Homo sapiens: one gene and its partners. The protein of the gene in region 7 purifies or fractionates together with the protein of the main gene of each other region. This does not show direct contact. Each region holds a gene or a part of one and is shown on either strand. Other genes may lie near its edges. The genes, in order: MPZL1, NNT, BCL7B, DIAPH2, DDX55, RCL1 and TENT4B.

The links.
Region 1: the proteins of TENT4B (region 7) and MPZL1 purify together in Homo sapiens (affinity purification with mass spectrometry, with the first as the bait; one large-scale study listed by BioGRID). This does not show direct contact.
Region 2: the proteins of TENT4B (region 7) and NNT purify together in Homo sapiens (affinity purification with mass spectrometry, with the first as the bait; one large-scale study listed by BioGRID). This does not show direct contact.
Region 3: the proteins of TENT4B (region 7) and BCL7B purify together in Homo sapiens (affinity purification with mass spectrometry, with the first as the bait; one large-scale study listed by BioGRID). This does not show direct contact.
Region 4: the proteins of TENT4B (region 7) and DIAPH2 purify together in Homo sapiens (affinity purification with mass spectrometry, with the first as the bait; one large-scale study listed by BioGRID). This does not show direct contact.
Region 5: the proteins of TENT4B (region 7) and DDX55 purify together in Homo sapiens (co-immunoprecipitation; one large-scale study listed by IntAct). This does not show direct contact.
Region 6: the proteins of TENT4B (region 7) and RCL1 purify together in Homo sapiens (affinity purification with mass spectrometry, with the first as the bait; one large-scale study listed by BioGRID). This does not show direct contact.

The regions. Positions count from the first base shown.
Region 1 is NC_000001.11:167,759,982-167,763,481, reverse strand, and holds part of MPZL1 (myelin protein zero-like protein 1 isoform a precursor), read right to left. Parts: intron 1-3,500. UniProt on the Homo sapiens protein: Cell surface receptor, which is involved in signal transduction processes. Recruits PTPN11/SHP-2 to the cell membrane and is a putative substrate of PTPN11/SHP-2.
Region 2 is NC_000005.10:43,704,180-43,707,896, reverse strand, and holds the end of NNT (NAD(P) transhydrogenase, mitochondrial), read right to left. Parts: intron 3,643-3,717; coding exon 3,493-3,642; 3' UTR 501-3,492; downstream 1-500. UniProt on the Homo sapiens protein: The transhydrogenation between NADH and NADP is coupled to respiration and ATP hydrolysis and functions as a proton pump across the membrane. May play a role in reactive oxygen species (ROS) detoxification in the adrenal gland.
Region 3 is NC_000007.14:73,538,274-73,540,690, forward strand, and holds part of BCL7B (B-cell CLL/lymphoma 7 protein family member B), read right to left. Parts: intron 1,780-2,417; coding exon 1,609-1,779; intron 1-1,608. UniProt on the Homo sapiens protein: Positive regulator of apoptosis. Plays a role in the Wnt signaling pathway, negatively regulating the expression of Wnt signaling components CTNNB1 and HMGA1.
Region 4 is NC_000023.11:96,911,842-96,915,341, reverse strand, and holds part of DIAPH2 (protein diaphanous homolog 2), read right to left. Parts: intron 3,015-3,500; coding exon 2,940-3,014; intron 2,860-2,939; coding exon 2,790-2,859; intron 1-2,789. UniProt on the Homo sapiens protein: Could be involved in oogenesis. Involved in the regulation of endosome dynamics.
Region 5 is NC_000012.12:123,615,599-123,619,098, reverse strand, and holds part of DDX55 (ATP-dependent RNA helicase DDX55), read right to left. Parts: intron 2,715-3,500; exon of another isoform or gene 2,589-2,714; coding exon 2,496-2,588; exon of another isoform or gene 2,452-2,495; intron 2,390-2,451; exon of another isoform or gene 2,259-2,389; intron 1,788-2,258; exon of another isoform or gene 1,342-1,787; coding exon 1,227-1,341; intron 503-1,226; coding exon of another isoform or gene 431-502; coding exon 262-430; intron 1-261. UniProt on the Homo sapiens protein: Probable ATP-binding RNA helicase. Has ATPase activity and is involved in the maturation of precursor large subunit rRNAs.
Region 6 is NC_000009.12:4,799,444-4,802,943, forward strand, and holds part of RCL1 (RNA 3'-terminal phosphate cyclase-like protein), read left to right. Parts: intron 1-3,500. UniProt on the Homo sapiens protein: As part of the small subunit (SSU) processome, it plays a role in 40S-ribosomal-subunit biogenesis in the early pre-rRNA processing steps at sites A0, A1 and A2 that are required for proper maturation of the 18S RNA.
Region 7 is NC_000016.10:50,156,306-50,159,805, reverse strand, and holds part of TENT4B (terminal nucleotidyltransferase 4B), read right to left. Parts: intron 1-3,500. UniProt on the Homo sapiens protein: Terminal nucleotidyltransferase that catalyzes preferentially the transfer of ATP and GTP on RNA 3' poly(A) tail creating a heterogeneous 3' poly(A) tail leading to mRNAs stabilization by protecting mRNAs from active deadenylation.

The DNA of each region.
Region 1 (3,500 bases), on a different chromosome or scaffold from region 7:
GTCACTCAGGCTGGAGTGCAGTGTTGCAACCTCCGCCTCCTGGGTTCAAGCAATTCTCCTGCCTCAGCCTCCCGAGTAGCTGGGATTACAGACACCCACCACGACGCCCAGCTAATTTTTGTATTTTTAGTAGAGACGGGGTTTCACCATGTTGCCCAGGCTGGTCTCGAACTCCTGACCTCAGGTGATTCACCAGCCCCGGCCCCCCCAAAGTGCTGGGATTACAGGCGTGAGCCACCGCACCCAGCCTTCTTCAAGGATTTTCTTAAACCAGATCCCTTCCTCGAGGCCTAGCTGCAAGACTTGTCATCCCGAGACATTATTTAAAGATGGAATTAGACCAAGTGTCCAAGTTTACAGTCACAGAATTTTGAGCAAAAAGACTAACCAAATTCCCAAATGGCTTTTAGGCATCTATTTAAGACACAGATTTCATTATACCAAAGTTAGGTAATAAACAGGTGGCTTTTTAAAAAACACACAACACTCTTTGGCTAATCTGAACGTGTAGCTCTTAGCCAGGATTATGAAATCCAAAGCTAGCCCATCAGCTAGCTCAAGAAAAAGAAAATGATGCCACACACTGAGAAATTAACTTCCTCCCATCCCTGGCTATCTACACTTTTCTCTAATACTACTCTTGTCATCATTTTTGGAGATTTCATCAGTTGTAAGATAAACCTTCTAAAACCCTAGTCTGTTTATCTTCTCCAATAATCTGGGTAAGATCAGGCCTACCCCAGCCACTCATTTCTATGGTCATACCTGTTCAATCAAGTTTAGCCTAAAGCTGCCTCCTTACATATTTTAAGTTCAGCCTAAGGGTTTTTCTGTACACTGTGAACTATAACAAGTGTAGGTGTAAACAGGCCGTAGCCAATCACCTTGGGCCAAGCACCGAGTTTTGGCCAATCAAATGTAGCCAACTGTTCAAATTGTGTTCAAGTAAGGCAAATGCTGAGCTATAATCAATGCAGCTGTTTCTGTACCTCACTCCCGTTTTCTGTACATCACTTTCCTTTTTCTGTCCATAAATCTTCTTCCGCCACGTGGCTGCGCTGGCGTCTCTGAGCCTACCTTGGCTCAGAAGGCTGCCCAATTCGCAGTTCATTCTTTGTTCAGTTAAACTCCTTTAAATTTAATTCAGCTGAAGTTTTTCTTTTATACCCTAAACCAGGGCTTCTCAACCTCAGCACTACTGACAACTGCCACAGACAATCCTTTGTTGTGGGAAACTGTGCTATACCTTGTAGGATGTTGAGCAGCACCCCTGGCCTCTACTAGATGACAGCAGTATCTCCTCTGCCTCCAGTTGTGACAACCAAAAATGTCTCCAGACATTGCAAATGCCTCCTCAGAGGTGAAATCCCCCCAGTTGAGAATCACTAGCTCTAGACCCAATCATCAGTACCTGCACCCACTCCAGAATCGTAGTTTCAGGCTTCTCTACTCCCTAATTGACCACCTCTTAGCTTTCCAATATCCTCCAAAACCCTGAGTTCACTGATCCCTAAGCTGCATCAGAAACTAAAATCCCAGCATGTCTTCATTTGCCTTACTCAGACTAAACCCCATAGGCCACCATTATACTCACCCCCTTGCATACACAATCAGCTCTCTTGCCTCTCCCTTCAGGGCCTTCACCTGGAACCTCTATCCTGGTTAAATTCAATTCTCTATCCACTATGCATCTCCACCAGGGTGGCTGACCACAGCTGGACAAAAGCACACAATCCCACTGACTATTTTCGCCTTAAATGTATGGTCACTAACCTTAAAGGGACTCTTAATGCTGTCTAGCAATCCACCCACATTGCCCTAATCCATCTGCTTTCCATTTCCCTAGAGGACTAGTTTAAACCTTCCTCTCTAACCTCAAATTTCCACTTCCTCTGGTTTCTCACTCCCAGCTAATGACTGAGCTGCTTATTTCACCGAGAAAACAGAAGCAATGAGAAGAGAACCTCCCTATGTCCAGACACCATAGCTACCCACCTCCCTGCATCTGTGCCCATTCTGCTTTCCCTGCACTCCTATGTAGAAAGTGTCTGTCTGCATCCCTCTCCAGGATGAACCTCTCCACTGCACATTGCATCTCATCTCTTGCCTACCTAAGGACATTTATTGATCCAGCAATTCTCCCTCTTCTGAATTTTTCACTCACTACTGAATTACCACCAGCAGCAATATAAACATACATATTTATATTTATATCCCAGGTTTAGAGAAAAAAAACCTTGACCCTGCATCTCCCTGCAGCTCTGGCCCCTTTGTCCTCCTTTATTTTATCAATCTTGAAAGAACTGTCTGTACACACTGTGTCCAATTTCTCTCCTCTTCTGTTCTCTTGGATAAATCCAATTTAGGCTTTCATCTCCGTTACTCCATAGAAACTGTTTTTGTTAAGGAATGCAATGACCTCCATGGTTAATTCTCAAATCTTGTCTTATTGCCCTATCTAAAACCTTTGAAAGTTACTCCCTGCTAAAACCTTTTTTTTTGTTTTTTAACAGTTTGGCTTTTGGAATGCCTCTCCCTCTTGATTCTCTTATCTCATTGACTGCTCCTTCCCTGGTTCTCCTGACCTCTATATGATTAAGAGCCCAGATCATTTCTCTGACTGCGTATCTATTTAACATTCCTTCTCTTGGTGACCTCACTCAGTTTCAAATGCTGATGACACCTGTACACACACACACACACACACACACACACACACACACACACACACACAGCCTATTCAACTTTGCTTGGATGTAATTGGCATCATCTCAAATTTAATATGTCCAAATTAAACTCCTGATTCCCACCCCCCAAACTTCCTTTCCATGGTCTTCTCCAAATCAGTAAATGGTAACACCAGTTTTCTAGTGGCTGAGACCAAAACCCTGGACTGTTTTGTGACTCCTCTCTTTTGCACAACTTTCCTCCAAGCTGTCAGCTACACATGTCATCTCTACTTAGAAACCTATCTAGAGGGGCCGGGTGCGGTGGCTCACGTTTGTAATCCCAGCACTTTGGGAGGCCAAAGTGGGCGGAACACCGAGGTCAGGAGATCAAGACCATCCTGGCTAACATGGTGAAACCCCGTCTCTACTAAAAATACAAAAGAATTAGCTGGTGTGGTGGCGGGCGCCTGTAGTACCAGCTAATCGGAAGGCTGAGGCAGGAGAATGGCGTGAACCCGGGAGGCGGAGCTTGCAGTGAGCTGAGATCACACCACTACACTCTGGGCGGGGTGACAGAGCGAGACTCTGTCTCAAAAAACAAAACAAAACAAAACAAAAGAAACCTATCTAGAAATTGATCTCTCTCTGCCTCATTTGGTGTCACCATCTTGGTCCAAGCCACTGTCATCTTTCACCTGGATTAAGTATTGATAGCTTCCTAATTGGTGTCTGCCTCCTTCAGCCTTCCCCACTTCACAGCAACTAGTCCACAGAGAGGCCAAAGAGATCTCATTAAAATTCAGGTTGGATCATATCACTCTTCTACTCAAA
Region 2 (3,717 bases), on a different chromosome or scaffold from region 7:
GCCTAGTTACACAAAAGAGCTTTCCAATACTAAAATGCTTTAATTCACAAGACTTATGCCTTAGGGGACTAAAAAATTTGTCCCTAGGTTAGATGAACATATGAGTCACAAGTTACTACTTTTAAAGAATCAACCTTTGGGATCAGATAAATTTTATGAAACCTTAAAGTTTACTGATATATAATATATTTTATATTTATGTTGGATGCGAGAATATAGCAAAATCTAAAAGTTAGGGTCATGACTTGGGTAGAATCAGAAAGGCAACGGTTCACTTTCCAAATTCATTACCAAATACTTAACTGATATTTCCTGACTCAGTAAAGGGTTAAAAGCCTACTGCACGAAGAGACTATTAGTCTCTATTAGTCCTCTCTATTCTAATTCCTAGAAAAAAAAGAGAATATAAAATGATAGTCTACATGCCAGAAAACTGTCCAGATAGATACATGAGTAGCAATATAAACATATATATAATGTGTAAAAACTTATACATTTACTTATTTTTTAATGTATGTATTTATTGTGTATAACATATTTTTAAGTATATATACATTGTGGAATGACAAAATCTTTCTAATTAATATGTGCATTACCTCAATTAGTTATCACTTTTGTGGTGAGAACACTTCACATCCACTCTCTTAGAATTTTTCAAGAATACAATATATTGTGTTTTTTTACCCCAAAATTTCTTTATTTTTTTAATGGGAAAGATCACATTTATTTCAGCAAATAACTTCTTTATAAATAGCTTCTGTTTTCTTTTTTTTTTTAATTATACTTTAAGTTCTAGGGTACATGTGCACAACGTGCAGGTTTGCTACATATGTATACATGTGCCATGTTGGTGTGCTGCACCCATTAACTCATCATTTACATTAGGTATATCTCCTAATGCTATCCCTCCCCACTCCCCCCACCCCATGACAGGCCCTGGTGTGTGGTGTTCCCCACCTTGTGTCCAAGTGTTCTCATTGTTCAATTCCCACCTATGAGTGAGAACATGCAGTGTTTGGTTTTCTGTCCTTGCAATAGTTTGCTCAGAATGATGGTTTCCAGCTTTATCCATGTCCCTACAAAGGACATGAACTCATCCTTTTTTATGGCTGCATAGTATTCCATGGTGTATATGTGCACATTTTCTTAATCAAGTCTATCATTGATGGACATTTGGGTTGGTTCCAAGTCTTTGCTATTGTGAATAGTGCTGCAATAAACATACGTGTGCATGTGTCTTTATAGCAGCATGATTTATAATCCTTTGGGTATATACCCAGTAATGGGATTTATATACATTTTTTGCTTAGATGAGTAATTTAAACACAAACTCCTAATTTAAGACAAATGAGAAAATAAAGGATAGTTAACAAGCCCTTAAAGACAAATCAACATTAGCATTTCACTACCTACAGATAATTTTTTTTTTTTGGTGACAGACTATAAGGTACAATAAATTTTTTTAATTATTTATACTTAAATATCATAAAGATATAGTGAATAATACAAAAATAAAATAAGTCATATCTACCAATTGTATGACTTATTGGAAAAAGAGGAATAATGAAATAGAATGTATAAAAATCATTTTTGTTGTTTTTAGATTTTTGCCATAATTTATAATCTAAGTCCACTAACCTTTTGGAATATTAATTTAAGAAATTATATATACAAAAATCCTTTAAATATCCTAACCAATAAAGTAAAATAAAATGAACAGGGCATGAATTTTCAATTCATTTAACACAATTGATGACAAAGGATTGGCAAATAGCAAAGAATAAGATAATACTAAATAAAAATATATATAAATTAAAATTTTTACTATGACAAAAATAAATAAAATCCAAGTATGATTATTTTTAGTTTAAACTGAGTGCAGGAACTACCTTTTCAAGAAATCAAAATTGCTTCTTTCTAGATATAACTACAACTACTTTGAGAGAAGAAAAAGGGCAGGAATAAAGATGGTGTTTACTTTCTTCTAATAGAATATACATGGTATAATTCAGCCCTGAGTTTACTAGTGATCTAAGATCAATTAACAAATTGCATTTATCACTTAAAACTTTTAAAAAAGTCTTTTCTGCTTTAACACACAAACGCACACACACACACACACACATACACAGATCTTAATCTCAGGCACAGCAAAATAGAAACTGATTATAAAACCAAAAGATACTGTGTGTTTTAAACTCACTAAACGCGAGCATTACAGTAACAAAATTTGTACTACTTCTTTTTCTGGTTTAGAGATTGTCTTTCATGTGTTAATAATTTTTTGAGAAACTTAGTACCAAACTAATTATATAGAGAGACAAATAATCTGAGTATTCATCACACATTCACCTATATTTAGAGCTTTAGGCACGATAGCAAAGTCACAAAGAAAATCTACACTTCTATAAAAAGACATGATCTTTACTGGTGCTTAAATGAACAAAGAGGTAGCTAAAAAAAGCCACCATTTCTCTCAAATGTCATCAATTACATAAGACCTCAAAACACACACTGATTTGAAAAAAAATCCATCCGTATTATAAACAGTGAAGACAGATTAATGTCATCTATTTCATAGTAGCAGGTCTTCCTTGATATTTGTAACAGGCAGAAATATTTGATTTTACTCTTTTGTCACCAGAGATAATTGCCACATCACTTGCCAACATGATGAACTCATTTTATTAGTCAAATGTTGAATTCCACTCAAGTGCACTTAATATAGTACTACACATTATAAGTTGATCGAAATTAAAGAGATCTCCAATTAGAAATGGGATCTTCAAAAATACTATTACTAATTTTCAAGTTGTATGTTTCATTGGTATTCTAATGAAACATATAAAGCAAATGATTTGTTTCCAGCATCTCTGAAAGATTATTTAGTCCTTTAATGTATTAAAATAGTAGTGAGAAAATGTGCCCTTGAAATATAGACTCTGAAGTACAATTTAAAAAATTAAAACTGATTTGATATGATTAATTCAAACTGCGGTTGAATTGCAAGGGGACAGCTCAGAAGTTCATAAAAGTTTCAAATTAGTCACATTTGTTGAAAAAAAAAACATAAAATGCAGGTGCCTGCAATGTTTACATTGTGTCAGATATTTCAGAGCCATGTATAATGTTGTCTTGAAATCCTAAACACTTAGTTTTTTAAAACATTTCTGGTTACTGAGGAGGCATAAAAAATCCAACAGGACTACATCTAAAATGAGGCTGTTCTTTCTCCTTTTATAAAATACTTTTGATTCCTAACACAAAAAATATGCACAGAAAGACATTTAGAATTTTCAATCCTTTTTTAAAATTGAGGGATTACTGCTTTTGAAAAATCTCTCTATACAGTTTTTGCTTTGCTTTCTTCAGTCTTCATTTTCTCCAAGAGCTTTGCTACAGATGTACATCACCATGTATACTGATACTTTATTTGCCTGTTCCCAAAACTGCAGAGGTGGCATTATTAGCTAACAGCTTGATCCTTAATATTTACTTCTGATAGGATTCTCTAACTTTCGCCTGGAGCGCGTCACATGTTTTCTTGGCATCACCTAGAAGCATGGCCGTGTTAGGTTTGTAGAAGATTGGATTGTCCACTGCAGCATAGCCAACACCCAAAGACCTCTTCATAACAATCACCTGAGAACCAGAGATTAAATGAGAGAGTGTATTTAACAGACCAACCTAGGACATGTTAGGCAAACAAACATTGCT
Region 3 (2,417 bases), on a different chromosome or scaffold from region 7:
TAGCCCAAACATCACAACTCTAACTCAATCTCCCAGTTTTCTGAGAGTTGCTATGAGGACGAGATGAAGTAATAAAACACAGGAGCTAAGAACAGCACATGCCAAATAGTAAGAACACAATAAATATTAACTACAATTGGCATTTCCCATGGAGAAACAAGTTCCATTTTGTAGTTGGCTGTTAACAGGTCACAGCACAGGAGAAGGTAACAAGGGCCTAAGACACATCTATATATCCATATTATAACAAGAAACCTGGGTCGGGCATGGTGGCTCACACCTATAATCCCAGCTACTCTGGAGGCTGAGGTGGGAGGATCACTTGAAGCCCAGGAGTTCAAGACCAGCCTGGGCAACATAGTGAGACTCCATTTCTACAGAAAATTAAAAGAAAGCCAGGCATGGTGGCAAAGGCTTACAGTCCTACTACTACGGAGTCTGAGGCAAGAGGATCACTTGACCCCAGGAGTTCAAGACTGCAGTGAGCTAGGATTCAGCCACTGCATTCTAGCCTGGGCAACAGAGCAAGACCCTATCTCTTTAAAAAAAAAAAAAAAAAAAAAAAGAAAAGAAAAAAATTTAGCATGTAATGCAGACAGCATAAATGCTGAAAATAGAAGGACTTAAAGTGACATTCATTCCAACAGTTACTAGACTGGCTATGTGATCTCAGACAAGCGATTTAACCTTTCTCTGTTTTTTTTTGAGATGAAGTCTAGCTCTGTCGCCAGGCTGGAGTGCCCTGGTGCGATCTTGGCTCACTGCAACCTCTGCCTCCTGGGTTTAAGTGATTCTCCTGCCTCAGCCTCCCGAGTAGCTGGGATTACAGGCTTGCGCCACCATGCCTGGCTAATTTTTGTATTTTTAGTAGAGATGGGGTTTCACCATGTTGGTCAGGCTGGTCTCTAACTCTTGACCTCAGGTGATCCACCCACTTCGGCCTCCCAAAGTGCTGGGATTACAGGTGTGAGCCACCGCGCCAGGTCTTTTTTTTTTGAGATGGAGTCTCACTCTGTTGCCCAGGCAAGAATACACTGGTGTGATCTCAGCTCACTGTAACCTCTGCTTCTTGGGTTCAAGTGATTCTTCTGCCTCAGCCTCCGGAGTAGCTGGGATTACAGGCACATGCCACCACGCCCAACTAAATTTTTTATGTTTTTAGTAGAGACGGTTTTGCCATGTTGGTCAGGCTGGTCTTGAACTCCTGGCCTCAAGTGACCCGCTCACCTCGACCTCCCAAAGTGCTGGGATTACAGGTGTGAGCCACCATGCCCAGCCCAATTTAACCTTTCTAAGCTTTGAATGTCCATTTTCCTCATCTGTAAAAGAAGACAATAGCTGCCACCTCACAGGATTTTTGAGAGAATTATAGCAGGCGTCAAATACTCAAGTTCCTTCCACACAGCCTGGCACGCAACTCTAATGCTTGTTTTCTCCCTTCCCTCTGTGAAAGGGGAAACTATAATCATTCCTAAGCTATCGAGAAAGGGCTTGGTGCTGCCTGGCTCTGAGGTGCTCTCTCGAGCCTGTTACTCTAAAGACGAGACACAACAAGAGCAGAAAGCAAGGCCCTTCTAGGAAACTCATCCTCGGCCAACCACGACTCACCCTCCAGGATCTCCTGGCCCAGCGTTGGGGGCTGGGAGTCATCCGTGCGGAAGTCGGAGGTGTGTGCTGGGCTCAGGGACTCACTCTGCTGGGGGCTGGGGCTTGAGTTGGTGCTGCTGTCCACCTTAAGCTGATAGACGTCAGACACGGAACTCTGGTTGCTGTTTTCGTCTGAAAACCAAACAGAACAAAGGCAGCAGCTGAGCGTGGTCATTTTCCTCAAGAGGAACTCTGGACAGAGCCAAGGGCCTGGCATCACTTTAGGCAGCCAAGGATACAACTGAGTATAATAATCATTGTGCCCGGCCTACACGACATAGATTCTAAGCACCAGAGGCAGCCAGAATCTTTATGTTTATGCAACATTACACTTTAGGAAGGTCAGGATATGCTTATTAAACTCTTCTTTATTATCCACTGATTGCAGCTTGTGGAAGGGAGGGATGTAGCTGTGTCTCTGGTCAGTACTTCTCAATCCTTCTCACATCATAAGATGTGTAGAAAATGACATTTGTCAGGCATCCTTGGGCATCTGAAGGAGGCTGGTGGTGTCTGAAGGTGGTGAGCTCAGGCTTCGGCTGCCGGACTGACGGATTAGCACCTGGGAGTTCTGCCTGAAGGCTTAAAGTCACCATCAAGGTGCAAAACTTAAGAGTTACCAGGCCGAGGCCAGGCACGGTGGCTCACGCCTGTAATCCCAGCACTTTGGGAGGCCGAGGTGGGCAGATCACAAGGTCAGGACATCGAGACCATCCTGGCTAACACGGTGAAACCCCGTCTCTACTAAAATTACAAAAAATTAGCCGGCT
Region 4 (3,500 bases), on a different chromosome or scaffold from region 7:
GTAGATGATTAAAAGTAATGAATATTAGTGAAAAACACATTTGCAAAACTGAGAGACAATGACCACGCAATTACCAAACTTAATAGCTTTATGAGTCATTGAGACTGAGAGTGAAATCATTAGGTTTTAAAAATTTTACTTAATGTTTATAAGTAGTTTTTAATATATAGAGACACATCAAAAATAAAAAAGAAGACATGAAAAATATATCTGGAAAATCATTAATCCAAACATCAGAGCAATATTATAGTACTGGAAGTTAAGAAACAATGGGTTGCTTTTTATGATCCTATTGTTACATGTATTGGATAAAAGAAAGGAGTTTTTGAAGTAGGTAATCTAAACTCCATGGGGCCAAAAAATTTGATGTGTAAGTCATTTTGGATAAAAGCTTAATTCCTTGATCTGGACAATTTATTCCAACATGAAGTGAAAAGATCACTGCATATTTTCTATTCTGAAGGCATATTTTATGCCTATTGTTTCACATGTCTATAATTCAAAAGATCCATTAATCCATGCTCTGAGCACCTATGTGCAAGACATTAACGTGGCCTAACTAAAAACATCAATTTCGAATAATCTAAGTCAAATCATTATGCTTTCCGAAACTGCCAAACTCTTAAGAAACTAAATGTTGACAAATCAAAGTATGTTCTGTTAAAAAAAAAAAGGGCTCTATAAGAATCTTACTATTATGACTCTCTCTAGTGACTGTCCTGATTAAAATTACTTAGCATCCTGAAAAGCCACGACAATTGACAACATGAGTCAATAAGAATTTAGAACAAAGTGTCCTATAGCTAAATTTACAGATGAGGGGACTGATACTCAGAGAGGTCAAGTAATTTTCCAAAGGCCACACAACTTATTAGGAACAAAGCATGAACTATATATATCTCCTGAATTCTAGAACTGTGTTATCTTTCCATTATGTCATTGTTTCCCTCAATTGACGAAAGAGATCTATCTTGAGCTGTGAAGAAGCAATGCTCATTATTTCCTTGTTGGGCATCAGATTCTGTTTAACTTTGTAGCCAAAGACTAAGAGCCCAGATTTTGAGAAAATCTGTACTAGTAGTGATGGGAATATTTCTGTAAGAAACTTCCAGAAACAGTACAACTAGCATATTCAGGAGTCTCATGTCCACTAGCAAGCATTCATTGCATATGCTCATACAGTAACATTCTTTGCTGATACATGTATGTATAATATATAAATACTTATATGTATTTCCATATGCTTGAGACTGTCTATAGATTAATATATAATCTTATTGCATTGGTTATTAATAGCCATATTTTACATTTGGCAAACTTCTACTTGTTGTTGTAATTATTTCTATTATCTATTTTGAGATTATTAAAATACTATGTAAAGGGAATTAGGTAATTAAGTGAATTAGTCAATAGTATTTTATCTATAGGTATGAAGAGGTCATTTCTAAGACAGTAAAAAAAATAGTTTATAGAAAAAATACTGTAACTTCATAACCTGAGTAAAGTCTATTTTTAGAAGAAAAATTATTGTCTAAAATTCACAGGGTCCCTTATAATACAACTAGTATTATACATATACATAAAAAGCCCTGCAATTTTTCAGAGATGTCTTATATGTATGTAAACTTGCTGACATTAATAAAACATAAAAGAAAGAGAAATCTCAATCTTACAATGTTCTTAGCAAATAAGTCAACCCATCCCTATAATTTTCCTTTTCAATAGAACAGAAATTCTCTGTGTGGAAACATATTCAACAAACGACATTTAAATTTTCCTACTACCATTAAAGAAAAAGCATTATTACCAAAATTGGGAACAACACTAATTCATTTGCATGATTTCAAAAACCCACCAATAAATATTTTGTGAAGCAAAGTATAACTTTCATGTAAGTATTACTTAAATATTATAAGGATTTACATCATAAAGACCCTTTTGTAAACTGAACAAGCACTCACTATTTTGTTCATTTCTTTCTTTTTGTTATGTTTTCTGAACATTTAGTATACTATAAAATCAAAAAGACCTCTGTTCACATGAAAGAAATTATTGGAGGAATAAACAGAATAAGAATCAGACACAGCATTTCTAAATTATAGACAAGAGTCAAATACACTTTTTCCAATCATTTTTTTTGTTTGTTTCATTGACTAGCTCACCCTCCTGAGGAAATTAGCAGCATAGACAATGGAAAGTACTGTTTTATCTATCTTCCCTATATGAAAGCAATATATTTGAATAGAAGAAACATTGGAATAGGGCTCCATTTTTTAAAAGATTTAGATCTACAGAAGTTATATCATCCCTGAAATCCTCTGGATGCTGTGAGGACTTCTTTGGTTAAAATGAAATATCAGCATAGAAATAAAAAAAAAAAAATCGAGAAAACTAACAATAGCTCACATTTTGGAAAATTAAACATCAAATTTATCTTTTATATATGGTTTCAAATGTGTATTTAACCTCACTGTAAAACTTTATAAACACTTATTATTTATAAGCCTGTAATAACTAGTCTACAATTAATTAGTACAGCAGAAACATAAGTAAAAAATAGGTACGGGGTGGGGAAGATGATGAGGGAAAAGAGTTAATGCATGCCGGGTTTATTATTTAGGTTGATGGGTCGATTTGTGCATCAAACCACCATGGCACATGTTCGCCTATATACATGTACCCTGGAAATTAAAAAAAATAATAAAAAAATATTTTGTTCATTTCATACTTTCATAGTGTTGGGCAAGTTCCCACCTTTTGTGACAGGGGCAGAAATAAATACTACTTACCTTATTATTCATAAATGCTTTGAGGCATTGAATAAGTTTATACTGATTCTTCTTGTCAATATTTTCTTGCCTAAATAAAAGAAAAATGTATATTATGTTGTGCTGAAACATTTTCCCTTTGGTGATTTTAATTTCAGTGTTTATTCTTACTGTTTTTTGTCCAGAAGCTTTTCCAGCTCATCCAATAAGAGTCCAAGACCTTCATGGCCAAAGTTGTTAACCCAGCTGAGAAATAAACAAAAAATTAGATGTATAAGTAAGTTAGTAATTTTAAAACATTAAATATCCAAAATAAAATTTTAATTTTCAAATCTGATAATTCTGTCTCAATATTGCTTGTCATTATTTTTTCAATTCCCACTGCTTCAAGTATTGACTCTATGAGGATGACTCAGTGATCTTTGCCTCAATCCTAGACTTCTCCACATTTTAGATTGCCCATTACACAGCACTGCCTTGGTTGTTTCACCAGCATGACATACTTAAGCATGAATTCACAAGCTGAATTCATCTTCCTCTGTCTCCATACCCCTAAGTCAACTTATCTTCCACTCTTTGATACTTTATTAATAACATCACTACCCTTTTAATTCTTCAGACTTGAAATACTGGCATAATTATTTGATGACCCATTTCTTTCACCTTTGCATTTATTCTATTTATTCAGTCAACAAATATTTGTCGAGTGTCTACAAAGTTCCAAGCATGTTC
Region 5 (3,500 bases), on a different chromosome or scaffold from region 7:
CCTGGGAGGCAGAGCTTACAGTGAGCCGAGATCGCGCCACTGCGCTCCAGGCTGGGTGACAAAGCGCGACTCTGTCTCAAAAATTAAAAAAATTACATTTTTACAAAGTTAAAAGGAATACTCAGCAGCCAGTGGCCAGTTTATTCTGTGTCTACTCAAAACCTGGGAACACTTCCTTTTATGAGACAAAGCAATCTCATACTTGTAAGACCACCACATAGTTAAGATGGAGACATTATCACATGAAGAAGTCCAACTTACCCTTTAATCTGAAAATCAGGTTGCATTCATGCTTTGCATAAGCTTGGACATATGACACAAAAGCTTTCATGCCCTTTTCAAACACAGCTCTGTCAGCCAGGGCCATGGACTTGAGTTTTGGCAGAAGGTCCGCTGTGTTTCTCTGGGGCTTCATCTCCTGCAGGGGGCACTACACACACACACATACCACATTCTCACCTTCCCTGGCTGGCATCATATCCCCAGGGCTCCCCATCACAACCAAGAAAAACAAAAGCGAAACAATTCCTTTTCAACTGTTGAGGTCTGAAGCCCAACTCCAACCCAAATATTTCACATGCTCTGTAAAGTATGTTAAATTTTTAAAAGAAAATTTAAAAATCAGATTTCACATGACAATCCTAATCTGGTAGCAAAGTATGGCAACACTGGGTCTCTATTCACAAGAAGTAACCCTTGCCTGGGTCCCAGCAGGGCATGCTACCACACAGGAGACTTGGTCACTCCATGACCGAGGTGCCTCCACAGCCTTAAAGCCCACCAGGGTGGCCGGGCACGGTGGCTCACGCCTGTCATCCCAGCACTTTGGGAGGCCGAGGTGGGCGGATCACCTGAGGTCGGGAGTTCAAGACCAGCCTGACCAACATGGAGAAACCCCATCTCTACTAAAAATACAAAATTAGCTGGGGTGGCGCATGCCTGTAATCCCAGCTACTTGGGAGGCTGAGGCAGGAGAATCCATTGAACCCGGGAGGTGGAGGTTGCGGTGAACCGAGATAGTGCCATTGCACTCCAGCCTGGGCAACAAGAGTGAAACTCCGTCTCAAAAAAAAAAAAAAAAAACCCCACCAGGGCCCCCCACTGCCACCACCAGCCCAGCCCCAGTGAGTTTGCAATTCGTAATTTCAATTGCTGACCACATGCTGGAGAACTTTTCCAGCTACCCCGTCACTAGGCATTCTATCTGAAAACGGACGGCAGCTTACTTTTTGGTTAATTGCAAGGAAATTGATGTATGACTCTTCCATGGGCAGGAGGAACACCAGAGCGCTGCCCCCGTGGCCAATGCGAGCTGTGCGACCGCAGCGATGCACGAAGGCACTGTGAGAACACAGGGTGGAAATGGGTACCCAGGTGATGACAGCTGAACAGAGCTCAGGCTCCAGCCACATGGCTGCTGCAGCTAAAACGCTCTGGGGAGCCTCTAGCCTCCACAGCTCAGTGTGGACTCGGCCACTTACTAGTGTGAGAAATAGAACTGGCAATTAAACCAACACTGCAAACAGATACGATTCTGTAAGAAACATTTAATGTGAACTCTTAAGTAAAACTTGTATCTTTCTCTCTGATCATACAGGTGGGACATAGTCCCCAGTGGAAAATCTGGGAAACAATGAAAAATACAAAGAATAAAATGAAAATGACCAATAACCTCAGGAGTAATCATCAACACTTGGGGGTTTATAGGCATTTTCCTATGCGTGGAAGCATGTATTAGGAATATATGCTGACTTTGAAGAAAGTAATTGTAATTTTCACATGTGGTGGTATGTATTGCTTTTTTCATTTAGACATTCTATTGTGTGTTTCTGCAAGAACTGATAATATTTGAAAGTACTTTTAATTGCTACCAATACAGTATCACGATTTCACCATGAATGGGTTATTCATCCATTTGCCTATTTTTGCTACTTAAAACAACGGGTTTTTGTTTTGAGACAGAGTCTCACACTGTTGCCCAGGCTGGAGTGAAGTGGCACAATCCATTGCCACCTCTGCCTCCTGCGCTCAAGCGATTCTCCTGCCTCAGCCTCTCAAGTAGCTGGGACTACAGGAACACACGCCTGGCTAATCTGTATATATATTTTTTGTAGAGACAGGGTTTTGTCCTGTTGCCCAAGCTGGTGAATTCCTGGGCTCAAACGATTCACCTGCCTCGGCCTCCCCAAAGTGCTGGAATTACAGGCGTGAGCCACCGCGCCCAGCCTCAAATAATGTTGTTGTTTTTTGTTTTCTCTCATTGTCTGAAATTTCTATAACCTTGCTCTACATGGAGCACGGCAAGGCCTCAAACCATTTCAAAACTGTTCTGGCAAGCCCTGTAGGAATCCACGGGGTCACTGCAGACCCAAGCACGCTGGAGGCTTGCTATAAAATGTTTCAGTGAACATCATTATCTGTTTATCTTCTTCGGGATTCCTCCTTTATTAGGCTAAATTCCTCAACAGAGAGTGGGTGGCAGCCTCGTACCATACCTTGCATTGCTGGGAGGGTCATACTGCAAAACCCAGTTGACTTCAGGAATATCAATTCCCCGGGCCATCACATCAGTGCACACTAAAATCCCACTAGGAAATGAGAAAAAAGCATTCTGAGTAAGGAGGCCACCATCTTCATCACCATCAAACAGCCTACTGATCTCGATGACAGTGACACACAGGTGCTGGAGCTTCTCACAGAAGCAAATGTTTAAGGTAATATTTTGATTTTTTCTTCTTTCTACAAATCTCTGGGACTTCATAAATTCCAATAAAAATTGGAGGGAGGTGAGAGACAGCAAAGGGATTTTAAAAATTACAGCACTGCCATTTGAAAACCAAAACTGTATGGGTCTAATCCTTTGTAGCCATCTGAAAAACAACGGACAATTCACTCCATAACTGAGGCCTAGCAGTCAGGTATATCACTTTGTCCAAAAGAAGACTTTTAATATAGTCAGATGTTCAATGATTAAGAAAAACAGAAAACTATTATTTGTCAGCACAAGCAGATACAAGTTATGGTCATTGGTAGACACAAGTTGCCTGCTGTATAGTCACAAGCCTAATAAGCCACAGACAGTTTTTTGTTTTTTTGTTTCTTTGTTTGTTTGTTTTTGAGATGGAGTCTCACTCTGTCACCCAGGCTGGAGTGCACTGGCGCAGTCTCGGCTCACTGCAAGCTCCGCCTCCTGGGTTCACACCATTCTCCTGCCTCAGCCTCTGGAGTAGCTGGGACTACAGGCGCCAGCCACCATGCCCGACTAATTTTTTGTTTTTAGTAGAGACAGGGTTTCACCACGTTAGCCAGGATGGTCTTGATCTCCTGACCTCGTGATCCACCCGCCTCGGCCTCCCAAAGTGCTGGGATTACAGGCGTGAGCCACCGTGTCCGGCCTTAAGCCACAGACAGTTTCTACCCAGACAGGACAAATGGATTTGCTCCTTGCTGCTTGACAGTCATCACAACCTTTCCCTGGACCGGGCACAGGGCAATCTGGG
Region 6 (3,500 bases), on a different chromosome or scaffold from region 7:
TGTTAGAACTAGGATATTGACATTGATACAGTGAGATACAGAACATTTCTGTCACTCCAAGGATTCTTCATGTCTGTTGCTCTTTTGTAGCCACACTCAGTTTCCTCCTTCCCCCACTTCTTCCTTAACCCTTGTCAGTCTCTAATCTGTTCTTTAATTTCTGTAATTTTGTCATTTGAAGACTGCTCCATAAATGGAATCATATAGTATGTAACCTTTGGATTGGCTTTTTTCTGTTTTCTTAAATTTTATATTATAAATTAAAAAAATTTTTAAAAAGAAAAAACTTGAAGGGCCTTGAATGAGTCCTGTATTTTTATTTTTTGTCACTACCTCCCTGGGTTGGGAGTGGGTAATTTGCATGCTTGCTACCTTCCTTGGATGTGGTAGCCATTTCTCAGACTCTGACTCTGGAATCAAACCCTGATTCCCTGTCACCCATGGTCACCGTGGTAGGCATGGTGACTATCATCAAAAGTTGATATGGCAGACGTTCATATGGGTTGTTGCTGCCACATGGGAGTGTGTGATTAGCCTGAGGTTATCTAGAGTCACTATAAGGACTGGCTTTTTTTCAGTCAGCATGATTCTCTGGAGATTTATCTAAGATGTTTTTATCAAGTTTGTTCCCTTTTGTTGCTGAGTAGTATTTCATGGTATGAAAAGATCACAAGTCTTTTTATTTACCTGTTGAAAAACATGTAGGTTGTTTCCAGTTTTTGGCTATCTCGAATAAGGCTGCTATAAAAATTTGTGGACAGGTTTTTCTTTTTTTTTTTATTTTTATTTTTTATGGTGTCTAGCTCTGTTGCCCAGGCTGGAGTGCAGTGGCACGATCTTGGCTCACTGCACCCTCCCACTCCCGGGTTCAGGCGATTCTCCCACCTCAGCTTCCCGAGTAGCTGGGATTACAGGCACCCACCACCATGCCCAGATAATTTTTGTATTTTTAGTAGAGACGGGGTTTCGGCACGTTGGCCAGGCTGGTCTCGAACTCCTGATCTTAGGTGATCCACCCACCTCAGCCTCCCAAAGTGCTGGGATTACAGGTGTGCACCACCATGCCCAGCCAGGTTTTTTTATTTTTTTATGTGAACATAGTCTTCCTTTCTCTGGAATAAATGCCCAGGAGTGCTCTTGCAGGGTTGTATGGTAGTTGCATGTTTAGTTTTTTAAGATATTGCTGCCCTGTTTTCCAGTGTGGATGTATTTTTTTTTTTTTTTTTTGAGATGGAATCTCGCTCTGACTTCCAGGCTGGAATGCAGTGATGTGATCTTGGCTCACTGCAACCTCCGCCTCCCAGGTTCAAGTGATTCTCCTGCCTCAGCCTCCAGAGCAGCTGGGATTACAGGTGTGCACCACCACACCTGGCTAATTTTTTATATTTTTGGTAGAGACGGGGTTTCACTGTGTTGGCCAGGCTGGTCTCCAACTCCTGACCTCAAGTAATCCTCCTGGCTCGGCCTCCCAGAGTGCTGGGATTACAGGCGTGAGCCACCACACTGGCCTGGATGTACCATTTTATATTCCTATCTGTAGTGTATGAGGGATTCAGTTTCTCTGCATCCTTTCTAGCATTTGGTGTTGTCACTACTTTTATTCTGATAGGTATGTAGTGATGCCCCAGGGTGGTCTTAATTTGCGTATTACAAATGACTAATGATGTCTTAAGTGAAACATCTTTCCAAGTCTTTTGTCCATTTCTAATAGGATTGTTTGTATTAACTGTTTTGTTTTGTTTTTTTGAGATAGGGTCTTGCTTTTTCATCCAGGCTTGAGTACAGTGACACGATCATGGCTCACTACTGCCTCAGCTTCCTGGGCGTAAGCAAATCTTTCATCTCAGCCTCCCGAGTAGCTGGGACTACAGGCACATACCATCATGCCCGGCTAATATTTTAACTTTTTGTAGAGATGGAGTCTCGCTATGTTGTCCAGGCTGGTCTTGAATTTGTGGCCTCAAGCCATCTTTCTGCCTCACCTTTCCAAGGTGTAATTCCTAAGGTATTACAGGTGTGAACCACGGTGCCTGGCCTCTACTGTTGCTTTTGAGACTACTTTATATATGCTAGTCTTTTGGCAGATTTGTAGTTTGTTAATATTTTCTCCCACTGTGCACCTTGTCTTCTTATTATCTTAATATGGTTTCCAGAGGAAAATATTTTAATTTTAATGATGTAGAATTTATGATTTTTTTCTTTTGTGGCAGTGCTTTTAGTGTTAAGTCTAAGAACTCTTTGCCTAGCTTTAGGTGCGAGACTTGGGTTGCGATTCTTTTTTTTTTTTTTTTTTGCCTATGGAAAGCCAATTGCCCAAGCATCATTTGTTGAAACGGCATCTTTTTTCCATTTAATTGCTTTTGTGCCTTTGTACAAAATCAGTTCAGCATTTTTGTGTGGATCTCTTTCTGGGTTCTCCATTCTGTTCCATTGATTTATATGTCTGTCTCTTGCCAACACGACACAGTCTTTTTTTCTTTTTTTTTGAGACGGAATCTCGCTCTGTTGCCGCTGGAGTGCGGTGGTGCAATCTTGGCTCACTGCAGCCTCCGCCTGCCAGGTTCCAGCGATTCTCCTGTCTCAGTCTCCCGAGCATCTGGGATTATAGGTGTGTGCCACCACGCCTGGCTATTTTTTTTTTTTTTTTTTTTTTTGTATTTTTGTAGAGGCGGGGTTTCACCATGTTGGCCAGGCTGGTCTCGAACTTCTGAGCCCAAGTAATCCACCCGCCTTGGGCTCTCAAAGTGCTGGGATTATAGGTGTGAGCCACAGCTCCTGGCCAGTATATCACACAGTCTTGATTACTTACTGTAGCTGTCTAATGAGTCTTGAAGTTGGTTAGACTGATTCCTCCCAGTTTGTTTTTCAAAATCATTTTAGTTATTCTAGTTCCTTTGCCTTTCAATATAAATTTTAGAATAATCTTGTCTAATATACAAAAAAGCTTTCCAATATTTTGACAAGAATTATATTACACCCATATGTCCATTTGGGGATAATTGTCGTCTTTATTATGTTGAGGTTTTAATCCATGAACATGATCTGTCTCTCTACTTACTTAAATCTGTTTCTTTTCCCCAGATGAAATATTATAGGTTTATTTAAAACATAATTCTCATCCTGAGATGAGAAATGTTCATTTGTTCACAAAATGTTCATTTTTCAATGTTTACAAAATGTTCATTTTTTTTTACTTTGTTATTTACAAATATACGGAAGTAGTTTACTTAAATTTTTATTACATATTTATTAAGGCAGGTAACTACATAGAAAAAAATTTTATTCTGTCTTAAGCATACTTGGGAATAAACCATTTGACAAATTATTGCACATCTGAAACCACAGTGCATAACAAACTACAAAAAATGGTAAGTTTTGTTTTGTTTTGTTTTTTTAAGACAGGGTCTTGCTCTGTCGCACAGGCTGGGGTGCAGAGGTGCGACCTTAGCCTACTGCAACCTTGAATTCCTGGGCTCAAGCAATCCTCTTGCCTCAGCCTC
Region 7 (3,500 bases):
TCTACACTATAGAAAACCTAATGTCTTCTTAAAAGCGCATGTCAGTACCCAAATCAGTAAAATTCAATAACCTGAAGGTTCTAGTTCACTAAGAATTACTGTGGGCTATATCTGCAAATGCACAGAAATTAAATAGAGCACAAATCACTTGGAAAAAGGCCTCTAAATTCTTTCATATTCAATCTACTTTAATCTGTCTGATTGCTTTGGAGCCCAGCAGTAACACCAATCTCATTGGTAACACTGTGTAGAAATAAGCAGAGAGAGGCCGGGCGCGGTGGCTCATGCCTGTAATCCCAGCACTTTGGGCGGCCGAGGCAGGTAGATCACCTGATGTTGGGAGTTTGACACCAGCCTGACCAACATGGAGAAACCCCATCTCTACTAAAGATACAAAATTAGGCATGGTGGCACATGCCTGTAATCCCAGCTACTTGGGAGGCTGAGGCAGGAGAATTGCTTGAACCCGGGAGTCAGAGGTTGCAATGAGCCAAGATCGCGCCACTGCACTCCAACCTGGGCAACACAAGTGAAACTCCGTCTAAAAAAAAAAAAAAAACAGAAAGAGAGAGAGAGGGAGGGAGCGAGAGCGAGAGAGAGAGAGAAAGAGAAGCAGATATAAGCCCTAATGCAGTGCTGAAAAAAGGCATGAACATCTTGGGCTTACTATGACATGATGAACAATGGGCACTAGAGGATGGCACATACAAGAGGATACTGCCCTACGGCAGTGAAGAGCACTACATCTCAGCCCTCCAAATCTCAGCTCCCCACTAGCAGGTCCACCTATACATCCCCCTACTATCTTCTTACCCAAACCAATAGTCCTTCTGGCCCTTATTTCCAAAAACACCACAAATATTTCCCCAGTCACTCAAGTTCAAAGCTACAGTGTGATTATTAAATCCACTTAAGGAATCTGAATCATCTCCATCCTTACCCTGTAATACCTCTCACATTCATTCTCCCTTCACATCCCCATTCCCACCATCCTAGTTTAAGAAATTGTACCTTAAACCCAAGTTTCCCAACAAGGTCTTGATGTCCCCACAGCCAAATTTGTACTCCAAAACATTGTTTTGAACAAGTCATCCAAGCCTTAAAAAAGCATCTACAGATCTGGCAGTACAGCCAACAGAAACCTATCATGAGCTTGGACAAACACCAAGCACCTTCCAGAAGAAGTTTCTGGACCCAGGGCTCAAGACCAAGTTCTGCAAATTCCCTGTATTTGCTACTTCTTGCCATCCCCTCTTTCTCCATAGTGATAAACAATTAAGTCTTTCAAAAGAAAAGGGTTTATGGCTCGTTTTCATGGACAAGCAGCAGCAGGTGGACAGCATCCTAAACCATGGCCAGTTCTGGAGGGGAGCAAAGCCCAAGAGAATCAGTGGAAGCAACTTAAAACATAAAAGGCCAGGCCAGGCATGGTGGCTCATGCCTGTAATCCTGACACTTTGGGAAGCCAAGGTGGGCAGATCACTTGAGGTCAGAAGTTCGAAACCAGTCTGGCCAACATGGTGAGACCCCATCTCTACTAAAAATACAAAAATTACCTGGGCATGGTGGCGGGCGCCTGTAATCCCAGTTACTCGGGAGGCTGAGGCAGGAGAATTGCTCGAACCTGGGAGACGGAGGTTGCAGTGGGCCAAGATTGTGCCACCACACTCCAGCCTGGGCAAGAGAGCAAGACTCCCTCTCATTAATTCATTCATTCATTCATAATTAAATAAATAAATAAGGCCAGGCATGGTGGCTCACACCTGTAATCCCAACATTTTGCTAGGCGGAGGCGGGAGGATCACTTGGACCAGGAGTTGGAGACCTTCATGGGCAACATGACAAGACCCCATCTTTACAAAAAAAACCAAAATGAGCCAGGCATGGTGGCACTCGCCTGTAGTCCCAACTACTCAGGAGGCTGAGGTGGGAAGTTCACTTCAGCCTGGGAGGCCAAGGCTGCTGTGACCCATGATTATGACACTGCACTCCAGCCTGAGCGACAGAGCAAGACCCTGTCTCAAAAAAAATTAAAAAAATAAATTTAGGCCAGGCACAGTGGCTCACACCTGTAATCCCAGCACACTGGGAGGCCAAGGCATGTGGATGGCTTGAGCCCAGGCAAAGGCTGCAGTGAGCCGAGATCACACCACTGCACTCCAGCCTGGGCAACAGAGCGAGACCCTGTCTCCATAAAATTAAATTAAAATTTAAAAATAATAAAACACAAAATAAAAAAATGTTTTAAAAAGCAAACAAAATCCCTGGTCTGTGGGTACATGAAGAAGTCTGAGATGATGAGCTCAAGAGTTTTATTTTGAAGACTTTAGGATGAAATCCAATATCTTACTCTACATATTAAAGAAATGTCCATGTCATGTGTAAGAGGGAACACATAATAAAAGGAAAGTTAAACATAAGTGGGCTATACCAAGAGCATGAAGTGAGTACCTTTGAGAGTTCAGAGGAGAAACCAAAAACATCAAGGACTTAGGCAATGCAAGAGGTCAGCATTCTAAATAAATCAACCAATTTGGTGGAAGCAGAGAACACAAAAGACAGCTGCGAGAGACTATATAGCTGTCCCATGGTTCTAGTCCATTTTCACATGCTTTCTGGTCTCCTCTCCCCATCTGGACTATCAGTTCAGAGGCCAAGAACCACCACAATGTGTTAACCTATTAGCTAACTATCAGTCACATCTTAAGAATTCAGAAAACAATGGTAACAGTTTTAGTATATTTAATCTCAGAACAGCATAACATCGAGGTGCACTCTGAATTCAGATTTTTTTAAATACCTATATTAAAAATAGAAAAACTTTCTAAAGTTAAGAAATAAGGATACTGGCGAGAATGGTGGCTCATGCCTATAATCCCAGCACTCTGTGAGGCCAAGGTGGGAGGACTGCTTGAGGCCGGTTGAAGACCAGCCTAGGCAACAAATGGAGGCCCCATCTCTACAAAAAGTAAAAATAAAAAAATTAGGCAGGTGTGGTGACATGTGCCTGTAGTCCCAGCTACTCCAGGAAGCTAAGGCAGGAGGATCACTTGAGCCCAAGAGTTAGAGGATACAGTGAGCTATGATCACGTCACTCCACTCCAGCCTAGGCAGCAGAGTGAGACCCAGTCTCAAAAGAAAAAAAAGAAATCAGGATAATGAGGCCGGGCACGGTGGCTCATGCCTGTAATCCCAGTCCTTTGGGAGGCCAAGACGGGCAGATCACCTGAGGTCAGGAGTTCGAGACCAGCCTGACCAACATGAAGAAACCCCGTCTCTACTAAAAATAAAAAATTAGCCAGGCGTGGTGGCAAGCGCCTGTAATCCCAGCTACTCGGGAGGCTGAGGCAGCAGAATCGCTTGAACCTGGGAGGCAGAGGTTGCGGTGAGCTGAGATCGAGCCACTGCACTCCAGCCTGGGCAACAAGAGCGAAACTCCGTCTCAAAAAAAAAAAAAAAATCAGAATACATGAATCAAAGCAAGAATTTCTAAGCACCCA